Homo sapiens: one gene and its partners. The protein of the gene in region 5 interacts with the protein of the main gene of each other region in a pairwise test. Each region holds a gene or a part of one and is shown on either strand. Other genes may lie near its edges. The genes, in order: ZBTB8A, ZBTB43, MCM6, DPPA2 and MCM10.

Region 1 (4,812 bases), on a different chromosome or scaffold from region 5:
TTTTTTTAAAGGGTCTCGATATATTGCCCAGGCTGGTCTTGAACTCCTGGGCTCAAGAGATCCGCCCACCTCGGCCTCCCAAAGTGCTAAGATTACAGGCATGAGCCACCACGACCGGCATCAACATCCTTTCCTAACTTCCTTCTGGAAACTAAAAAGTACATTTCCCAGACTCCTTTACAATTCAGTTTCCCCATGTGAAATGTGGCCTATCAATGAGATGTTCTGTGAGATCCGGAAGGCAGAAATGAGGTGGGAACCATCTTTCTTCTGTTTTGGCTGTTAATGCTGGCAAGCACATTTATGGAAACATTGTATTTTTTTCTCATAGCAGCATTCCAGTGTCAAAAGCTTCATGATTGTCAAAAGACAAACATGGTGAAGACAGGAGTCACTATTTGGTAGGAGTTCAGGGGAAGTTCAGGGGTAGCAGGGTTGTTTCCTTTTATTTATTTTCAGAGGCAGGGTCTCACTCTGTCATCCAGGATGAAGTGCTGAAGTGCAGTGGTGCACTCCCAGCTCACCGTAAACTCGAACTCCTAGGCTCAAGGGGATCCTCCCACTTTGGCCTCTCAAAGTGCTGGATTACACTGCGCATGGCCTATAGCAGTTAGTCGACCCTTAAATTACACTAGCAATGTCATTGGCAGCCTCCTGATTCCCTCCCTGGGGGGCCTGTTGGGCAGTCTTTTTTTTTTTTTTTGAGACGGAGTTTTACTCGTTGCCCAGGCTGGAGTGCAACGGTGTGATCTTGGCTCACCGCAACCTCTACCTCTTGGGTTCAAGCGATTCTCCTGCCTCAGCCCCCCAAGTAGCCGGGATTACAGGAACATCCCACCATGCGTGGCTAATTTTTATATTTTTAGTAGAGACAGGGTTTCACCATGTTGACCAGGCTGGTCTCGAACTACTGACCTCAGGTGATCCGCCCGCCTCGGCCTCCCAAAGTGCTGGGATTACAGGCATGAGCCACAGCACCCAGCGAGGTGTTTTGTTTTGTTTTGTTTTGAGACAGAGTCTGACTCTGCCCTCCAGGTTGCAGTGCAGTGACGTGATCTCGGCTCATGGCAACCTCTGCCTCCCGGGTTCAAGCGATTCTGTCTCTGCCTCTGGAGTAGCTAGGACTACAGGTGCGGGCCACCATACCCGGCTAATTTTTGTATTTTCAGTAGAGATGAAGTTTCACCATATTGGCTAGGCTGGTCTCAAACTCCTGACCTCATGATCGGCCTGCCTCAGCCTCCCAAAGTGCTGGGATTACAGGCATGAGCCACGGTGCCTGGCCCCGGCCAGGTATTTCTTTTTATCAATGAGAGCATGGACTAATACAGGGACAATAATAATACCTATAGCTTACAGAGCTGCGAGATGGAGAATATTAGAAGCTAATCCAAGAAACGTGCTTATAACAGTGCCTGGCTTATAACAAGCCCTTGATAAATGTCAGCTATTATTATTATTATTAATTATCTAAACATTTAAAAACACTGCTTTCAATGAGTACAAAATGTAAACATTTTAGAGTTTTATTGCCACACATTTTCTTGTCTTATACAAATGGGGATACAGAAAGGAGGCTCACGCCTGTAATCCTAGCACTTTGGGAAGCTGAGGCGGGTTTATCACCTGAGGTCAGGAGTTCAAGACCAGCCTGGCCAACATGGCAAAACCCCATCTCTACTAAAATACAAAAATTAGCCGGGCATGATGGCGGGTGCCTGTAATCCCAGCTACTTAGGAGGCTGAGACGGGAGAATCGCTTGAACCCTGGAGACGGTGGTTGCAGTGAGCCGAGATTGCACCACTCCACTCCAGCCTGGGCGGCTGAGTGAGACTCTGTCTCAAAACAAAAACAAAAACAAAAACAAAAAATGTGGATACAGAAAAAAAAAATGTTTTTTGACTGGTTTCATCATATTCATGTACCTAGAGAGAGTGAGAGCGATCATTTCAAAACTACATGTGTACCTGGGAATAGCAACCCTCGACTCCAACTAGTCAATTGCAGACCTCACCTTAAGGAAGGATTATTCTTTTTTTTTTTTTTTTTTTTTTTTTAATTTGAGACGGAGTCTAGCTCTGTCGCCCAAGCTGGAGTGCAGTGGTGCAATCTCGGCTCACTGCAACCTCTACCTCCCGGGTTCAAGTGATTCTACTGTCTCAGCCTCCTAAGTAGCTGGGATTACAGGTGCCGGCCACCATGCCCAGCTAATTCTTGCATTTTTAGTAGAGATGGGGGTTTCACTGTTTTGACCAGGCTGGTCTCGAACTCCTGACCTCATGATCCACCTGCCTCGGCCTCCCAAAGTGCTGGGATTACAAGTGTGAGCCACTGCGCCTGGTCTTTTTTTTTTTTTTTTTTTTTTTGCTTTGTTTGTTTTTTGTTTTAGACAGAATCTTTCTCTGTTGCTCAGGCTGGAGTGCAGTGGTGAGATCACAGCTCACTGCAGCCTTGACCTCCCCGGGCTCAGGTGATCCTCCCACCTCAGCCTTCTGAATACAAGTGTGTGCCAAATTATTCTTGAGAAACCATTTTTGCCTTTTTTTCTTTCTTTTTTTTTTTTTTTTTGAGATACAGACTTGCTCTGTCACTCAGGCTGGAGTGCAGTGGCCTGAGAATGAGATCTATAACCTAAAATAAGATTTGCAACCTAAAAGTTTATGTTTTAATGTTGCTGAGTACAGTGGCTCGAACCTGTAGTCCCAGCTACTCAGGAGGCTAAGGCAGGAGGGAAGATCCCTTGAGCCCAGGAGTTCGAGGCTGCAGTGAGCAATGCTCATGCCACTGCACTCTAGCCTGGGCAACAGGGCAAGACTCCATCTCTACTAAAAAAAAAAAAAAAGAAAGAAAAGAAAATTTGTTTATACTTAGAATACTACTCTAATGTATATATTTAAAAAGTCATGGATAAAATTATGGCTTAGTTTGGTTTGCTGAGGTATCTTCTGGTGATGAAAAATACATTGCAGATTTTGGAATAAAACTTCCCCCAGCCGGGCATGGTAGCTCATATCTATAATCCTAGCACTTTGGAAGGCCCAGGCAGGAGGATCACTTGAGCCCAGGAGTTCGAGACCAGCCTGGGCAACATGGCGAGACCTCATCTCTACAAATAATTAAAAAATTAGCCAGGTGTGTGGTAGTATATGCCTGTGGTCCCAGCTACTCAGTAGGCTGAGGTGGGAGGATCACTTGAGCCTGAGAGGCTGAGGCTGCAGTGAGCTGTGATTGTGCCACTGCACTCCAGCCTGGGCAACAGGGCAAGACCCTGTCTCAAAAACAAAAACAAAAAACTTCCCCCAGATATTCTGGAACTGTAAGAATTTTATGTTGGACCTAGTCCAACAGCGCCAGGGAGACAGAGGGAACTGAAGGTGATATAAGGCATCCGCTATGCCCTCCGTGTTTCACATGCTGCTGAGAGCCACAGGATTCAAAGCAATGGAGGTTTTCTGAAGGGTCAGAAAAACAGCCGAAAGAAAACAACTTCATCTTTTGATACAATCATTAATTTTACATTGTTCTGAACTCCACAGAAGTATATTTTCCTTTTTTAAATTCTTGAGACAAGGTCCCACCAGCCTGGAGTGCAGTGGTACGATCTTGGCTCACTGCAGCCTTGGCCTCCGGGGCTCAAGTGATCCTGCTTCAGTCTCCCACATAGGTGGGACTATAACAGTGTACCACCATGTCTGGCTCTTTCTATATTTTAACAGAAAAATCTTTTATTTATTTATTTATTTTTTTTTTTGAGACAGAGTCTCACTCTGTTACCCAGGCTGGAGTGCAGTGGCATGATCTTGGCTCACTGCAACCTGCCACTCCTGGGTTCAAGTGATTCTCATGCCTCAGCCTCCTGAGTAGCTGGGATTACAGGCACGCACCACCACACCTGGCTAATTATTATATTTTTAACAGAGACAGGGTTTCGCCATGTTGGCCAGGCTGGTCTCAAACTCCTGGCCTCAAGTGATCTGCCCGCCTTGGCCTCCCAAAGTGCTGGGATTACACGTGTGAGCCACTGTATGTGGCCCTTTTACTCTATTTTTATGAGAAGGGCAGATACTCAAATTGGCAGGTGAAACGCATTTTATTCAAGACATATTTATTGAGCAACTACTCTATACCAGACTATACCTGGTCCTGAGAATATAGAGGTGATGAAATGTCAAAGGTCAGTGCTCACTTTCAAGCAGCTCACTGTCTAGTAGGAGAGAGAGAGAGTCAGAGAAGAGACAGGAAGAGAAGAGACTTCTAGACAAAGTGACAATACAATGAAGAAAATACTCATAGTAGAAGGGAACTGTAAAACAAAGAAAGCAAATGATTGTACCTGGTAGTATTGAGAAACATTTCCAAAAGGCTCAACGTTTAGGTTGGGTCTTGAAGGATGAAAAGAAGTTTATACATGAGAAAGAGGGCAAAAGGCGTTCTAGCCAGAGAGAGCACCAAATGGGAAGGCAAAAACAGCGTATTAAACAGCATGGCCTCCTAGGGGATGGTAAGAAGTTTGCTATAGCTAGAGACTGTGGGCCTACAGAAGGATGGCAGAAGATGAAACTAGAAAAGTATGTAAGAGCTAGATCTTGGAAGCCCCTCCAGTTTTGGGGGTTCTGAGGCACTTCTGAAGGATTTTAAAAAGAAGAAACACAGGATTATAGGTCTACCAATCATTAGCTGTGTGACTTTGTCAAGTTACTTAACTCTAAGCATTCGTTTCCTTTTTGTAAAATGAGGTTATTGACTGTTTAGAGGCTCTAAGGAAGTCTGTTAAGAGGATTAAATAAGATAATCGCTAAAATAAATAAGAT
Region 2 (3,500 bases), on a different chromosome or scaffold from region 5:
ATAGGAAATAACAGCAACTACTATTTATGACATACATATACAAATATATAAACTGCTTAATACAGACATTGTACAAAGTCTATGCAAAGCACTTTATATGCTCTGTCTCACTTAATCTTCACAGCAACCCACTCAATAGGTATTTTTTACTTCCATTGTACAGAATTGGAGATAGACAAAAAAGCTAAGCAACTTAAGGTCATATAACTGGTAAGCAGTAAAATTGAGATTTAAATCCAAAGTACTTGTTCAGGCCCACTATAGCTTAAGAGGTGGAAAGAAAAGGTGAATATAATTTTTTCTTCTTTTTTTTTTTTTTTTTGAGATGGAGTCTCTGTCGCCCAGGCTGGAGGGCAGTGGTGCCACTTCAGCTCACTGTAACCTCCGCCTCCCAGGTTCAAGCGATTCTCCTGCCTCAGCCTCCTGAGTAGCTGAGACCACAGGTGCGTGACACCACGCCCAGCTAATTTTTGTGTTTTTAGTAGAGATGGGGTTTCACCATGTTGGCCAGGTTGGTCTCGAACTCCTGACCCTCATGTGATCTGCCCACCTTGGCCTCCCAAAGTGCTGGGATTACAGGCATGAGCCATCGTGCCTGGCTGTGAATATCACTATAGTTTCAGAGTATGGAAAGTAAACGTGAATATCATTTTCACAAATAATCTATATAATTTTATTATATACAATGCATTCACAAACTTTCGCACGCTGACCATCCTTAGACTTAAGATGGCCCAAGCCAGGCATGGTGGCTCACTCCTGTAATCCCAGTACTTTGGGAGGCCGAGGCGGGCGGATCACCAGGTCAAAAGATGGAGACCATCCTGGCCAACATGGTGAAACCCCTTCTCTACTAAAAGTACAAAAAAAAATTAGCTGTGCATGGTGGCCCATGCCTGTAGTCCCAGCTACCTGGGAGGCTGAGGCAGGAGAATCACTTGAACCCGGGAGGCAGAGGTCGCAGTGAGCCAAGATCTCGCCACGCGCTCCAGCCTGTGTGACAGAGCGAGACCCCATCTCAAAAAAAAAAAAAAAAAAAAAAAAGACGGCTGGGCACAGTGGCTCATGCCTGTAATCCCAGCACTTTGGGAGCACGAGACGGTGGATCACCTGTGGTCAGGAGTTTGAGACTGGCCTGGCCAAGAAGGCGAAACCCTGTCTCTACTAAAAATACAAAATTAGCTGGGCATGCTGACAGATGCCTGTAATCCCAGCTACTCAGGAGGCTGAGGAAGGAAAATCTCTTGAACCTGGGAGGCAGAGGTTGCAGTGAGCGGAGATTCTGCCACTGCACTCCAGCCTGGGCAACAAGAGCGAGACTCCATCTCAAAAACAAACAAACAAACAAATAAACAAACAAATGAACAAACAAACAAAAACCTTAATAAGATACCAGCAGTTAGTGGGCCGGGCGCGGTGGCTCACGTCTGTAATCCCAGCACTTTGGGAGGCTGAGGCCCGTGGATCACAAGGTCAGGAGTTCAAGACCAGTCTGGCCAAGATGGTGAAACCCCATCTCTACTAAAAATACAAAAAAATTAGCCGGGTGTGGTGGCCGGCACCTGTAATCCCAGCTACTCTGAAGGCTGAGGCAGAGAACTGCTTGAGCCTGGGAGGTGGAGCTTGCAGTGAGCTGAGATCCTGCCACTGCACTCTAGCCTGGGCGACAAAGCGAGACTCTGTCTCAAAAAAAAAAAGATACCAGCAGTTTTATGCCACTTTGCACATGTATTTTATTTTTTTAATCCAATAGCAACAGTTCTAAAACAAACACACCGATGCCAGCCTGTTCCACTATGCTTCTTAAAAGCTATTTGGCTTTTTTTAACGCAGATGAAGGGCAACATACTGAAGAAATCCTGAACTAGATGACCTTCAAGATTCCTTCCAACTTTGATGAGTTTAATAACAGCCACTATTTATTATTCGGCTGAGGAACTCCAAGTCAAATTTTATACGTGATTTAAACACCTATTAAACATCCTAAAAACACAGATGACAGCAATATAATAGGGAAGCAGACCCACCAGCTACTTATTGTGAAGTCCTTCAGAGGTTTCTTTAATCAGAGCATATGGTAACTTGCATGCTTACTATAGAAAGCATATTTAAACATAGTAAATGTTGCTTCAGTAAATTTAAAGCCTGGCACAAATGTACAAAAACACCAATACCCTATGCCTACTCTTTACATTAGTGAAATGCTTTAGAGTTCACAAAGCACACTATGTAAACCTGCGTTGTGCAACACTCCCGTATCATTGCATCCTTTTGAAATATGAGTAAACTGAAGCTCAAATTAAAAGACCTGCCAGTGGTTACACGTCTCAGAAATGGCATGTCAGCATTCAAACAGCAGTATAACTCCAAATCTAACATTTTTCTAAGTTAAGAAAAAAAATTCACTTGGCAGAAAAATTTATCTGACATTAAATGTTCTATCAGTGCAAAGTATGGCATTGATGGGCCTTAGAAGGTGTAACATCTCTTCAGAAGAGAAGAAAGAATCTTCTGGTCTAGAGGAATTAAAAATCTTAACAAAATACATTATTATTTTTGCTAAAAGAGAAATGATTACAGTAAGTAACTTTAAAAATGGTATCGTGATCAAGTTGATAGCTTACCTAATGCAAAGCTGTATTCCTGGGATAGAGTTCCTTATGCCATGGCCATCAAAAAGCAACATGAATAGAATGAGGAAGAAGAACCCATTTCAGTTTTGCTTCAAATTAAAATCACATTGACTTCTGGAAGGAAGAGTAACAGTGAAAATGTAAAAGAGATGCTATGTACACGTGTATTTGCTAATAAACACTAGAGATGTACATTAGCGGCAGAAAGAAAAGTAATCAAGACTGGCATTTTTGGTTATATTAAATTCCATTCTGCAACTTCATAGCTCCTGCTTTTGTATTTTTTAAAAAAACAAACTTATTTTGTAATAATTTTAAATTTTCAAAAAAACTGAAAAGATAGTGCATAACTCCCATATACCTCTCATCCATTACTGTGGCATATTCATTAAAACTAGAAAACATGGTCAATGACTATGTAATTTTGCAGAATTAATATATCCTTTGGAACAGTGCTATTGGTCTCCTGACCATTGTCAATCAGTATTCTTCCATTTTTTTCCTAATTAGAACACTTTGGCCAAATCACTTAGTAAAAACTATTTTAAGATGTTTTTTAAAAAAACAAGCCACCTGCTTTATGAAGTTTGATTCATGATTCCCTTCAATTTTAAGCCACGGCTGAATGTTTTACTTAAAAACTTCTAGGACAAACATTCTATTACAGCAAACTCTCTGAGATTCAAAAGAGAAGGTAACGTTCTAGAAACTAACCCCCCATTTATCGATCATCCTTCCATTGAATTTCAATAAAGCCAAGGAAATGTTTTTAACTGTACCCTCACGTGCATTAGAATTCAGGATAAGAAGCTGAAATCAAGAAAGCAGAAGGCAGAAACAGTACTCATTTCAAGAAATTAACAACAT
Region 3 (4,471 bases), on a different chromosome or scaffold from region 5:
AAAAATTGCCCTTTCAAATCTACCCCTGAAGTTAGATTGGACACTTTCAAGCACTCACTCTATGTGTTAACATACCTTCATAGGAAGCATCATATCTCATCAGCACAGTATAAGCTCTCTAGTTTTCTGTAGCAAATTAGTTCAGGTGGTAAGCCAAATTTTAAAAGGTAATCCAGGCTGAGCGCAGTAGCTCATGCCTGTAATCCCAGCACTTTGGGAGGCTGAGGTGGGTGGATCACCTGAGGTCAGGAGTTTGAGACCAGCCTGGCCAACATGGTGAAACACCATCTCTACTAAAAATACAAAAATTAGCTGGGAGTGGTGGCGGGCACCTGTAATCCCAGCTACTCTGGAGGCTGAGATAAGAGAATCATTTAAACCCAGAAGGCGGAAGTTGCGGCGAGCTGAGATCATGCTACTGCACTCCAGTCTGGGCAACAGAGCAAGACTCTCTCAAAAGATAAATAAATAAATAAATAAATAAATAGGTAATTCAAGTTTAGATCAGTTAGCTTCACAGTGTGTTCCAAAGTCCTGAAGCAGATTCCTTGCCTGGGTCGTTTTACTTTACACTGATCCCAAGGAGCACACAGACATGTCCCACCACTAGAAAAGCAACTCTGGACCCTGATCTGAGTAGCTGTTCTTACACCTCCCTACCCCTCAATAATCACAGACTGATCTACCTTCACAGGAAAACGGTTTTTGAGAAGACACAACCCCAATACATGACCTCTGTAATATTTATATAGTGAGCCCTGTGAATTGGCACGACAGTTAAATCTCTGCCACATAATAGGAAAATTTAACCATTCAACATATATTTGATCCTGCTATGTGCCAGGTACCACTGTAGCTCCGGGGCAAAGTCTCTACCCTCACAGAGCTTATATTCCATAAGAGAGACAAACTAACCACTTAAATAAAGAATATACTGCTGGGCCATGTTAAACATTACGAAGAAATACAAGGCAGGGTGACAGCAAGAGCAGAAGGCTACTATTTTGGCAGGCTAGCAAGAAAGGTTTCTTTGAAGAGGTAACATTTGAGCAGACATTGGAGAGGAGGAGGATATCTAGGGAAATGGACAAAGGGTGAGTGCAAAGGCCCTCATATTTGGTGTGCCTAGGGATCAAGGCCAGTGTCACTGGGGTGAAATGGGTATGGGGAAGACTGCTGTGAAATTAGGTGAATGAGGGGACAGGGGTTACACTGTATAATAGTTCTGCAGGCCATGACAAGGAGGCTGAATTTCCTTCTAATGTGAGAGAAGCACTGGAAGGGAGGGTAGTAAAATAATCTGATTTATATTTTAAAAAGACTTATCTGGCTGCTGAGCAAGAAGCCAATACAAAAAAAGGACAATTTTATGAGGCTTCTGCAACAGTCCATGCCTGGTGGCTTGGGTGGGCTGGTGAAGGCGGTAAAAAGAGAAAAGAAAATATACACACACTGAAGCTGGGGGTCAGAGGATTTGCTGCTGAAGAGGAGCTGTGAGGGGAGAGTGGAATCAAGGAGTCAAAGACAATTCCAAGGCATTTGGCCTATAGCAATTGAGTAAGAACAACTCAACTGCAAACAGGGAAGAACAACTCTGTTTTTGAACACATTAAGCACGAGATGCCTGTTAAACGCTCATCAGTAGGCAACCAGCTCTATACATCTGGAGTTTACAGGAGTGGTGAGAGCTGGTGACATAAATGTGGAAGTCATCAGTAGATGGATAAATTCATAAAACCAAATGAGATCACTTAGGTAATGAATGTAAACTATCTGAGAGTAAAGTAAGAAGAGAAAGATTCAGGCCAGGCACGGTGGCTCACGCCTGTAATCCCAGCAGTTTGGGAGGCCAAAGTGAGCGTATCGCCTGAGGTTAGGAGTTCTAGATCAGCCTGGCCAACATGGCAAAACCCCATCTCTACTAAAAAAAAAAAATTAAAAAATTAGCCGGGCGTGGTGGCCGGCGCCTGTAATCCTACTTGGGAGGCTGAGACAGGAGAATCGCTTGAACCCAGGAGGTGGAAGCTGCAGTGAGCTATGCCACTGCACTCCAGCATGGGCAACAAGAGCGAAACTCTGTCTCAAAAAAAAAAAAAAAAAACAAAACCATTCAGGGAAAGAGACTAAGAGGGAATAACCAGTGAGAAAGAAGCCCCAGGAGGATACAGTGACTCAGAACCAAGTGAGGAAGACACTATTTGTAGGAGTGATCAACTGTGACAAAGCTGTGGACAGGCTGAGTACTGAGAATGGCCAGCTGACAGGAGTGGAGAGAAGGTATGTGATGGGCCTGTGAGAGAGTGAGGCAAAGAACTGACCCGGGAAAAGGAATTGCACTGGGCAGTGCTGTCATGAGGTTGATGAGACAGTAAGAACTGTCCACTTGAGATTTCTGGTCATCGATTTAAATAAGACTGGGCTCATAATTATATGCTTTTCTCCAGATACTTTCAGCTGCTTAGATAAGGATACAAAAAAAAAAAAAAGTTATATTTAACCAAGTTTGGGGTTTCGCCAAGCAAGTAAGATGGAAGATTGACTATTGGGTTGGGTAAGGTGGGAACTAAGAATGTGAGGAAAATGAAACATAGAAAGTAGGTGACAGCAGTACGACCAAGGGCAAATATGAGGATGGGAAACAGAAGCTTAAAACACCTAACTAGTAAGACTTCAATCCCACCTTCTGAGATTTAACCTAAATTCTGCTTGTTTCAGCAGAGGAAATAAGTCATTTACCTGCTGTTCATTCTCTCTTATTTTACAACTCATACTTCTGACTACACTCCAATGATTCAAAACAAACAAAGGTCAAAAAAAATTTCACTAGTGAACCTGCAGATACAGGGCATGAACTCCCTCCCTCCCTGATACCAGAGCACGCGCACTTCTGCACCTACATAGTGTGTGAGTCGATGAATAACTTTCTCTATGATTCTTTTTTTATTTATAAGTTCTTCTTCAGAGTCTATCTCTGATTCGATTTCCTTCAAGTACCAGTTAACAAGCTCGCTCCTCTTTAATGCTGACTCGTCCTCTTCTGCAACAAAAAAACACATTCAAATTATCCTAGCAACTCGTACTGTCAGTCCTTGGGTAAATCTCTGCCACATATACAACGAGATAATGTACAGATTAGATAAATGTCAAGCCGTCCGAAAGTACATCTGGTGACGTAAGGTCCGCAATGTTCTAGCATAAGCCTGAAATAACAAGTCATATCACTTGTATTAAAGCATGCCTTATTTTATCCATAAGGAGAGAAACCTAATAAAATAGATTATAAGAAATATGTTTCTTAAAGCTATTAAGATTTCAAAGTATGAAGGTCTTTTCTTCATCTTCTTATGCTTCACCACCTCTGAGAATGCTTGCCAACAGAAACTAAAAGCATAAATTAGGAATGAAGCAACAGCAAGCAAAAATTCTGAAATATAACAACTTTTCCTCTGTAGAAAGGGGAAGGCTTTATGGAACTGGAGTTTACTAAGAAGTAAAATTCATGAGTATTCACTCAAAATAAAAAATTACCTGTTTATTTTAGCAAGGTTCATCTTACTAAGTGAACTGCCTGCTGCTTTTAACAAGTCCAAGGTCTACCAGACTTTTAGAAAGTCCTGGTAAGAACCCTCAACACATAGGAAATGTTTGGACCTGGATAACATAACTATCATAAAACTCAACTTCTGCTGTGTTTAAAACTTACTTGTATGAGGGAGAAAGAGAATAATGACATATAACATGAATCAAGAACACCTTGAGTTCCCAAATCATTTTGTGTGAGACGCGAATGAGGACAAAAGCTGAGGCGTCCTAGTGGCCACTTTGTTGCCTTCTCTCCTACTGGTCTAAAGTTCCCAGGGGAACAAGGGCAGAAACTACAATCTCTTGTTCTCTTCTTTCATAGCAGAGCAAATACTGTGATGACAAAATATTCCAGAAAGCCAGCACAAGCCATCCTTGGGGCTTTTAATCAAGAATTATCTGATGCTTAACTATCAAGTAGAAGTTTAGGTTCAACATCTTGAATTCATCATTTTTCCTTCTGCTTTGTAGTTAACTATAGGGTGATAAAACTTTGAATAGCATGGTAAAGCAGTTAAGGGTAGGAAGCGTACTAGTGTCCAGACGCCACACTTTACCAATAACTACATGAGGATTTTACTCCATTTCTAGTCTGCAATGGCCTTTTGATAGTATAGATTTCTAGGCTCAATTAATTACTGTTAAAATATACCCTAGGGGTCCAGCTGTTTTAAACAGAACCATTGTAAGGGAATAGTAATTTTGCATTTGTAAAAACATTTGTATGTGCTGCTTCATATGTTATCAGGTCCCAAAATTATTAAAATAGGCCCAGAATGTTAAAAAGAAGGACCTACAAAGCTTTGCCTGACAATAAGCTTGTGAAGAAATGTTCAGGCTGGCAGGTATGCTGATACTCCACAAATTTACTTTGCTAAAGTGAGTTTAT
Region 4 (4,427 bases), on a different chromosome or scaffold from region 5:
ATAACTTGCATCCCAATCATTGCTGTGCTGTGTCCTGACCATCTTTGGTATCTCCTGATGCCTTGAGTACTGACTTACTAAATAGTTAGCTGCACAGAATACAATTTGGTTTTGTTTTAATTAATGGACTCTTTTTTGAAAATGAAAACTTGAGTGAAAAGTATAGGGTTCCCATGTATTCCCATGTACACGGTGCTTCACACCCCCTCCATTTTCCTCTGTTAGTAACTTGCATTAGTGTGCTACATTTTTTACAATTGATGAGGCAGGGCTGGGCATGGTGGTAGTCACCTGTAGTCCCAGCTACCGGGAAGGCTAAGTCAGGAGGATCACTTGCACCCAGGAGGAGTTCAAGGTTGTAGTTCTCTGTGATCACACCTGTGAATTGCCACTGCACTCCAGCCTGGGCAACATAGTCTCTAAAAAAAAAAAAAAACTAATGAGTCAATATTGATACATTATTCTTTTTTCTTTTTCTTTTTCTTTTTCTTTTTTTTTTTTTTGAGACGGGGTCTCATTCTTGTCGCCCAGGCTGGAGTACAATGATGAGATCTCAGCTCACTGCAACCCCTGCCTCCCAGGTTCAAGCAATTCGCCTGCCTCCGCCTCCCAAGTAGCTGGGATTACAGGTGCACACCACCACGCCCAGCTAAATTTTTATTTTATTTTTTTTGAGACAGAGTCTCACTCTGTTGCCCAGGCTGGAGTGCAGTGGCGTGATCTCAGCTCACTGCAACCTCCGCCTCCCACCTCCCGGGTTCAAGCAACTCTCCTGCTTCAGCCTCCCGAGTAGCTGGGATTACAGGCATGTGCCACCACACCCGGCTAATTTTTTTGTATTAGTAGAAACGGGGTTTTGCCATATTGGCCAGGCTTGTCTCGAACTCCTAATCTTGGGATCCACCCGCTTCGGTTTCCCAAAGTGCTGGGATTACAGGCGGGAGCCACCGCACCCAGCCCCCAGTCAATTTTTTTTTTTTTTTTTGGTATGTTTAGTAGAGTCGGGGTTTCACCATTTTGGCCAGGCTGATCTGGAACTCCTGACCTCAGGTGATCCACCTGCCTCAGCCTCCCAGTGCTAGGATTACAGGCGTGAGCCACCGTGCCCGGCCTCTTTTTCTTTCTTAAAAATTTGTTTATTTTTGAGACAGGGTCTGGCTCTGTCACCCAGGCTGGAGTGCAGTGGCACGATCTCAGCTCACTGCAACCTCTGCCTTCCGTGTTCAAGCCATCCTCTCACCTCAGCCTCCCAAGTAGCTGGGACTACAGACACACACCATAATGCCCAGCTAATTTTTTTTAATTTTTGGTAGAGGACGGGTTTCACCGTGTTGCTCAGGTGAACAGCCTGGTTCAAGACCATTGAACTCCTGAGCTCAAGCAATCCACTCGCTTAATCTTCCAAAGTGCAGGGATTACAGGCGTGAGCCACTGTGCCTGGCTATTTTATTATTATTATTATTATTATTATTTTTAGACAGAATCATACTTTATCACCAGGCTGGAGTGCAGTGACGCCGATCTCAGCTCACTGGAACCTCCGCCTCCCAGGTTCAAGCGATTCTCCTGCCTCAGCCTTCCGAGTAGCTGGGATTACAGGCACCCGCCACTATGCCCAGCTAATTTTTTGTATTTTTTTAGTAGAGATGGGGTTTCACCATGTTGGCCAGGCTGGTCTTGAGCTCCTGACCTCGTGATTCACCCGCCTTGGGCTCCCAAAGGGCTGGGATTACAGGCGTGAGCCACCGTGCCCGGCTATTTTATTATTTTTTTATAGAGATGGGGTCTCACCATGTTTCTCAGGCTAGTCAAACTTCTGGGCTCCAGCAGTCCTCCCACCTCAGGCTCCCTGAGTTCAGGGATTACAGGTGTGAGCCTCTACACCGAGCAGATACCTTATTATTAACTAAACTCTATAGTTCATATTAGGTTTTATTATTCGTGTTGTACATTCTATGGTTTTGACAAATGTAAAATGACATTTATCCAACATAGTGTCATACAGAATAGTTTCACTACCTTAGAAATCCCTTGTGTTGCACCAATTCATCCCTCCCCGCAAGCCCATACACTGGAAACCATAGATCTTTTTGCTCAGTCACCCAGGCTGGAGTGCAATGGTGCAGTCATAGCTCATTGCAGCCTTGAACTCCTAGGCTCAAGGGATTCTCCTGGCCCAGCCTTCTGAGACACTGGGACTACAGGTGTGTGCCACCGTACCCAGCTAGTTTTATTTTTTAATTTTTAGTAGAGATGGGTCTCACTGTGTTGGCGAGATTGGTCTCAAACTTCTGGCCTCAAGCTGTCCTTCTGCCTTAGCCTCCCAAAGTGCTGGGATTACAGGCATAAGCCAGTGTGCCTGGCCTATCATAGCTTTGCCATTTCCAGAATGTTGTGTATACTTAGAATTATACAGTGTGTAGCCTTTTCATATTGGCTTTCAGATAGCAATATGTAGTGAAGATTCCTCCATGTGTTGTCATGGCCTGATAGCTCATTTCTGCCAAACTGTCTTTAAAAGTGGCTGTAGCATTTTGCATTCCTACCAGCAATGAATGAGAGTTCTTGTTGCACCATATCTTTCTTAGTATTTCGTATTGTTTGGATTTTAGCCATTCTAATAGGCGTGCCACAGTATTTCAGTGCTTTTTTTTTTTTTGAGACAGACTCTCTCAGAGAGTGCAGTCACCCAGGCTGGAGTGCAGTGGCGTGATCTCAGTTCACTGCAACCTTTGCCTCCTGGGTTCAAGTGATTATCCTGCCTCTGCCTCCCAAGTAGCTGGGACCACAGGCACACGCTACCATGACTGGTTAATTTTTGTATTTTCAGTAGAGATGGGGTCTCGCCATGTTGGCCAGACTGATCTAAAACTCCTGACCTCAGGTGATCTGCCCACCTTGGCCTCTGAAAGTGCTGGGATTACAGGCATGAGCCACTGTGCCCAGCCAGTATCACATTTTTTTAAATTTGGAATTCCTTAATGATATGAAGTAGAGCATCTTTTTATATGTTTATTTCTCATCTGTGTATCTTCTTTGGTGTGGTGTCTTTTCAGGTCTTCTGCACAATTTTTATTTTTTAACTTACTATTTATTTTTTATTGAGAGAATGTCTTGCTCTTTCACCCAGGCTGGAGTGCAGTGGTGTGATCATGGCGCACTGCAGCCTTGACCTTCTGGGCTCAAGCAAGATTCTCCCACCTCAGTATCCTACTGGGACTACAGGTGCACATTACCATGCCTGGCTAATTTTTCTATTTTTTTTTGTAGAGATGGGGTTTTGCCATGTTGCCCAGGCTGGTCTCGAACTCCTGGCTCAAGTGATCCATCAGCCTCAGCCTCTCAAAGTGCTAGGATTTTGCCTGGCCTTTTTGCACATTTTTTAATTGGGTTGTTTTATTATTGAGTTTTAAGAGGTCTTTGTATATTTTGAATAACAGTCCTCTATCAGATATATCTTTTGCAGATAATTTTCTCATTTCTTTCCTTCCTTTTTTTTTTATTATTTTTTTTGAGACAGAGTTTTTGCTCTTGTTTTCCCAGCTGGAGCGCAATGGCGCGATCTTGGCTCTCTGCAACCTCCACCTCCTGGGTTCAAACAATTCTCCTGTCTCAGCCTCCCAAGCAGCTGGGATTACAGGCATGTGCCACGACACCCAGCTAATTTTTGTATTTTTAGTAGAGACAGTGTTTCTCCATGTTGGTCAGGCTGGTCTCAAACTTCTGACCTCAGGTGATCCATCTGCCTTAGCCTCCCAAAGTTTTGGGATTACAGGCGTGAGCCACCACGCCCAGCTTTGTTTCCTTCTTTTTAAATATCACTTTACTCTCTTCTTGTTTGTAAGGCTTACGGAGAGAAGTCCAATGTAATTCTTACCTTTGTTCCTTTACAGTTAAGGTGTTTTTTTCTCTTACTTTTACGATTTTCTATTTGTCTTTGTTTTTCTGCAGTTTGAGTATGATATGCCTAGGTGTTGAATTTTTGGTGTTTATCCTACTTCCTATCTCTGAGCTTCCTGGATCTCTGGTTTTGTATGTCATTAATTTTGGGATATTTTCAGTCATTGCTTCACAACTTTCTATTCCTTTCTCTCTTCTGGTATTTTCATTACATGTTGAAACCTTTTTGTAATTGCCTCGCAATTCTTGGATATTCAGTTCTTTTTAAAAAGATTTTTCATTTTGCTTTTCAGTTTTGGAGGTTTCTATTGACATTTGTTTAAGCCCTCTGATTCTTTTGTTGGCAGTCCAGCTATAGATGAGTCCATGAAGGCAGTTTTCATTTCTGTTAGTATTTTCTTCTAATTTCTATCATTTTATTTTGATTCTTGGAATTTCCATCTTCCCACTTGCATTACTCATCTGTTTTGTATCTTGTCCACTTTTTCTGTTAGAGCCCTTAGCATATTAATCAACACTGTTTTAAA
Region 5 (4,812 bases):
ATGGTTTTAACCTATGTTGACCATTCCAAGAGTAAAACTAGATAAACCCTGTCTCTAAAAAAAAAAATTAGCCAGTCATGGTGATGCGCCTGTAGTCCCAGCTACTTGGGAGGCTGAGGTGGGAACATCACTTGAGCCCAGGAGTTCGAGGCTGCAGTGAGCCCTGATGGGGGACAGAAAAAGACCTTGTCTCAAAAAAAACAAAACCTCCCCAACCCCCACCAAAAGTACATTATCTAGCCCTAGCTACTCAGGAGGCTGAGGTATGAGAATTGCTTGAGCCCAGGAGTTCAAGACCAGCTTGGGGAACATACGGAGACCCTGTCTGAACACCCCTCCAACCCCTGACAAAACCCCTACATTATCAAAGAAATAGGTCCATGCTATTTACCAAGACACAAACCTATGTGAGCCTCCATTTCTGGCTCATTTACACTGATAAGTCCAAGCCTCTGATGACTTGATTATTTCCCCTAAGCTAGTTCTGCCTCTGCATTTATGAATCCATAATGAAATCTGTATCTTTATCACAAATCTTTTCATTTTTTCTTATTTGCATTAGGATATTTATTGATTTTTTTCGAAATGACTAGTATAGGTAATTCATATTATCTATGAATTTTATTTCAAGATAAGGAAGCAATACAAAATACTTGTTATTAAAAAGGGTCCTTGGGTGTGATGGGGTTAACTACTGATTTAGAGCATTTGAAATGCCAATATAAAAATACTGGAATGGGAAAACTCTTTTTGCATATTGCAAGGCAGAAAATAGCAGCAGTGTAGAGCCATTTAAACATAATTTCACAGCCATAACCAAATGCAAACATTTTTATAATATTGATATCTATTTAAGTCATGTTAAATCAAATGATATTCTTCAGTAAAGAGACAAGGACAAAGCTAAAATTTATTAGAAATTCTCCTGTTCTTCAAAGCAAACTCAAACAAACTGACATATACCTACTTTTAGATTTATGTAAAAAACAGATTCTTGGCTGGGTACGGGCATGGTGGCTCACGCCTGTAATCCCAGCACTTTGGGAGGCCAAGGCTGGAGGATCACTTGAGGTCAGGAGTTAGAGATCAGCCTGGCCAACACGGTGAAACTCTGTCCCTACTAAAAACACAAAAATTTGCTTCGTGTGGTGGCAGGCACCTGTAATCCCAGCTACTTGGGAGGCTGAGGCAGGAGAATCGCTTGAACCTGGGAGGCGGAGCTTGCATTGAGCCGAGATGGCGCCACTGCACTTCAGCCTGGGCCACAGACTGAGACTCTGTCTCAGAAAAACAAAATAAAACAAACAACACATTCTTGGTCCTACAGCTAGCACCTTGGCTTTGAAGGACATCGGACATCAACACCATCCTTGAGCTTTTGGGCTCTTACCTCTTTCAGGATGCCTGTGTGTTTTGATTTTGCTTTTAGGATTTTCTGAAATTCCTCAGATTCCAGATAGGCAAGTTGTTCTCTCCTTTTTTTCCTGGCAGGCTCCAATTCATCCTCAGCTAGGGCACAAGGAACAAACATTAGCAGCGACCAAGAAATTTCAGAAAGCCAGTGCGCCTCATCAACTCTACTCCCTCCCACTCCCTCCTCCTCTGCCTACCAGCCCTTCAAACTTGACCTACCCCCGCTGGTCCCAGCAGGGAAAAGCTCTCAGAGGTGAGCCAAGAAGCTGAGCCTAGAATGTGGGGTGGTGGCAGATTTTACCACTAAATAGAATCTCTTTTTCACCTTCAAATAGGCAGCTGACGATAGTAACAGATAACAACAGTGTAAATAATGTTGACAATTATGTTAAAATGATATTGCCAACTTCAGAGTTTTAAAAATAAAGATATGGCAATTTAAAACAAAGGAATTCTAGTTCTGTCAAAGTAAATCTTTATGCTAATATATATATGTACAAAGATCCAATGAGCAATCCTATTCCCAAGTATTCAAATTGTGCCCAATTTCATTCCAATTTAATGTAATTATAAAAAAATCAGTTCCAGCTCACGTCTGTAATCCCAGCACTTTGGGAGGTCAAGGCGGGCGGATCATGAGGTCAAGAGATCGAGGCCATCCTGGCCAACATGGTGAAACCCCATCTATACTAAAAATACAAAAAATTAGCTGGGCGTGGTGGCGCGCGCTTGTAGTCCCACTTACTCGTGAGGCTGAGGCAGGAGGATCGCTTGAACCCAGGAGGCAGAGGCTGTAGCGAGCCAAGACTGCGCCACTGCACTCTAGCCTGGCAACAGAGCAAGACTCCATGAAAAAAAAAAAAAAAATCAGTTCCACCCATAGAAATTCTATTTAGGTATTCTATATAGGAGGAAATGGAAGTAATTGCTTGATATCTGGGTGCTGGTTTGGGTTTAGAACATATTTCCCTTAGAAACAGTTTCTCTTTCCCACTGTTAACTGTGAAACTGCAGTACCTTGAGAAGAAAACATGGTGTTTTTTTCTACACGTTCCTTCACCTCCAGGATGTCCTGAGGGTCCTTTTGTTTCTTCTTAATGCTGTTTGGGTTTGTTTTTGTAAGAACCTGGCCTTTTGCCCTTAATTTGGTGATAGCAGCTAACTAGAAAAAAGGGAATGAGAGGGAGGTAAAGATCTAAAAGATGACAGAGGCACTTATAGACCTGGATCCCTTTTTTATTAGTAACCAGTGAATTCTGGCTGTTCTCTGACAGAAATTGGCAGAACATATCTTAATTTTACTTAGTATTATTAACACAATTACTAGAATATAATAGCATGGGAGACAGGTCTATATGTTGATGAATAAAATCTTAGTTTATTTAAATATAACAAGTTTGACATCAGCAAGACTGCAGGCTTCCAGATCCATAAAGGAGCCACATCACCATTTTGGAAGTTTTAGAATCAGAGAGAATTAAGATAAAGTTCCAGCCAGCTCTGCCACGGACTAGCTTGTAACCCAAGGAAAATTACTTAATTTTTCAAGTATAAAATGGAAATGGGGCTTGGCATGGTAGCTCATTGTAAACCCAGCACTTTGGGAGGCTGAAGCAGGTGGATTTCTTGAGCTCGGGAGTTTAAAACCAGCCTGAGCAACACAGTGAGACTTCATCTGGGCATGGTACAAAATTAGCTGGGCATGGTAGTGCATGCCTGTAGTCCCAGCTACTCAGGGGACTGAGATGGGAGGATCACCTGAGCCCAGGGAGATGGAGGTTTCAGTGAGCTGTGATTGCACCACTGTACACCAGCCTGGGAGACAGAGTGAGACCCTGTCTCAAAACAAACACACAAAAAAAGAGAAGGAAATGATGATATAGCATTGACCTACCTTTGAAGGTCATGGTTGTATGGATGAAATAAGATAATATCTGCAAAGTATGAATCTTTACATAGCAAATACATTCCTGGCCGGGCGCAGTGGCTCATGCCTGTAATCCCAGCACTTTGGGAGGCTGAGGCAGGTGGATCACTTGAGGTCAGGAGTTCGAAACCAGCCTGGCCAACATGGTGAAACCCTGTCTCTTCTAAAAATACAAAAATTAGTCAGGCATGGTGGTGGGCACCTGTAATCCCAGCAATTCGGGAGGCTGAGGCAAGAGAATTGATTGAACCCAGGAGGCAGAGGATGCAGTGAGGCGAGATCGGACTACTGTATTCCAGCCTGGGTGACAGAGCGAGACTCCATCTCAAAAAATATATATATAAATAAATAAATAAACATAGTAAATACATGGCACACACATATCACAAGTACTGAGTAATATGGACATGTGCCATGGTTATTGTAGGTATTCCTGTTGTTATTATTATAGGTAAGGTTTTGGCATACAGCAAGCTTTGCCCTTCATTTGGCTGCAGCTGCTAACTTAAGGGAAGAGAGAGGCTCGATTGGGGCACTCAGGAAGTGGGCAGGTGGGGCTCTGGGTGCCCTACCCCTACTTCAGCCGCAGCAACTCAGCTTTCACCTGTCATGGGACTGGACTTTTGTGTAAGATTTCTTTTAAAGGATTCTTGGTTAGGCACAGTGGCTCATGCCTGTAGTCCCAGCACTTTGGGAGGCTGAGGTGGGACTGCTTGAGTCCAGGAGTGCAAGACCAGCTTGGGCAGCAAAGGGAGGCCCCCATCTCTACAAAAAATACAAAAATTAGCCAAGGCGTGGTGGCATGTGCCTGCAGTCCCAGCTACTACTTGGGAGGCTGAGGCAGGTGGATGAATCGATCCTGGGAGGTTGAGGCTGCAGTGAACCATAATTGCACCACTGCACTCTAGCATGGGTGACAGGGGGATAGTCTGTCTCAACAAATAAAAAATAAAACCGCCAGGCATGGTGGCTCACACCTATAATCCTAGTACTTTGGGAGGCCGAGGTGGACAGATCATTTGAGGTCAGGAGTTCGAGACCAGCCTGGCCAACATGGTGAAACCATGTCTCTACTAAAAATTAGCCGGGCGTGGTGGTAGGCGCCTGTAGTCCCAGGTACTCGGGAGGCTGAAGCAGGACAATCGCTTGAATCTGGGAGGAGGAGGTTGCAGTGAGCCGAGATTGCGCCACTGCACTCCAGTCTGGGTGACAGAGTGAGACTCCTTCTCAAAAAATAAATAAATAAATAAATAAATAAATAAATAAATAAATAAACGTAAAAAAAGGATTCCTTAAACCACCATTTTACAGTCTCACCTCAACAATTCCAAGCATTGTTTTCCTACTGTCAATGCCTCTGGTTATAAAACACTATCTTCCTCTAGGCTACCTCTTGTAGCCTGACAAGAAAAAGTGTTGAGATAACAGATCTAACTTTCTTTTAGTATTATGTTGACACTACCATGTTTTCA

The links.
Region 1: the proteins of MCM10 (region 5) and ZBTB8A interact in a two-hybrid assay, tested with the Homo sapiens proteins (one large-scale study listed by BioGRID and IntAct).
Region 2: the proteins of MCM10 (region 5) and ZBTB43 interact in a two-hybrid assay, tested with the Homo sapiens proteins (one large-scale study listed by BioGRID and IntAct).
Region 3: the proteins of MCM10 (region 5) and MCM6 interact in binary tests that used the Homo sapiens proteins (3 or more experiments, as listed by UniProt).
Region 4: the proteins of MCM10 (region 5) and DPPA2 interact in a two-hybrid assay, tested with the Homo sapiens proteins (one large-scale study listed by BioGRID and IntAct).

Annotation. Positions count from the first base shown.
Region 1 is NC_000001.11:32,545,384-32,550,195, reverse strand, and holds part of ZBTB8A (zinc finger and BTB domain-containing protein 8A), read right to left. Parts: intron 1-4,812. UniProt on the Homo sapiens protein: May be involved in transcriptional regulation.
Region 2 is NC_000009.12:126,808,040-126,811,539, reverse strand, and holds part of ZBTB43 (zinc finger and BTB domain-containing protein 43), read right to left. Parts: intron 3,444-3,500; exon of another isoform or gene 3,348-3,443; intron 2,748-3,347; 5' UTR 2,625-2,747; intron 1-2,624. UniProt on the Homo sapiens protein: May be involved in transcriptional regulation.
Region 3 is NC_000002.12:135,841,648-135,846,118, forward strand, and holds part of MCM6 (DNA replication licensing factor MCM6), read right to left. Parts: intron 3,038-4,471; coding exon 2,898-3,037; intron 1-2,897. UniProt on the Homo sapiens protein: Acts as a component of the MCM2-7 complex (MCM complex) which is the replicative helicase essential for 'once per cell cycle' DNA replication initiation and elongation in eukaryotic cells.
Region 4 is NC_000003.12:109,295,763-109,300,189, reverse strand, and holds part of DPPA2 (developmental pluripotency-associated protein 2), read left to right. Parts: intron 1-4,427. UniProt on the Homo sapiens protein: Binds to target gene promoters, including NKX2-5 and SYCE1, but not GATA4, and may be involved in the maintenance of the active epigenetic status of these genes.
Region 5 is NC_000010.11:13,195,386-13,200,197, reverse strand, and holds part of MCM10 (protein MCM10 homolog), read right to left. Parts: intron 2,576-4,812; coding exon 2,431-2,575; intron 1,510-2,430; coding exon 1,391-1,509; intron 1-1,390. UniProt on the Homo sapiens protein: Acts as a replication initiation factor that brings together the MCM2-7 helicase and the DNA polymerase alpha/primase complex in order to initiate DNA replication. Additionally, plays a role in preventing DNA damage during replication.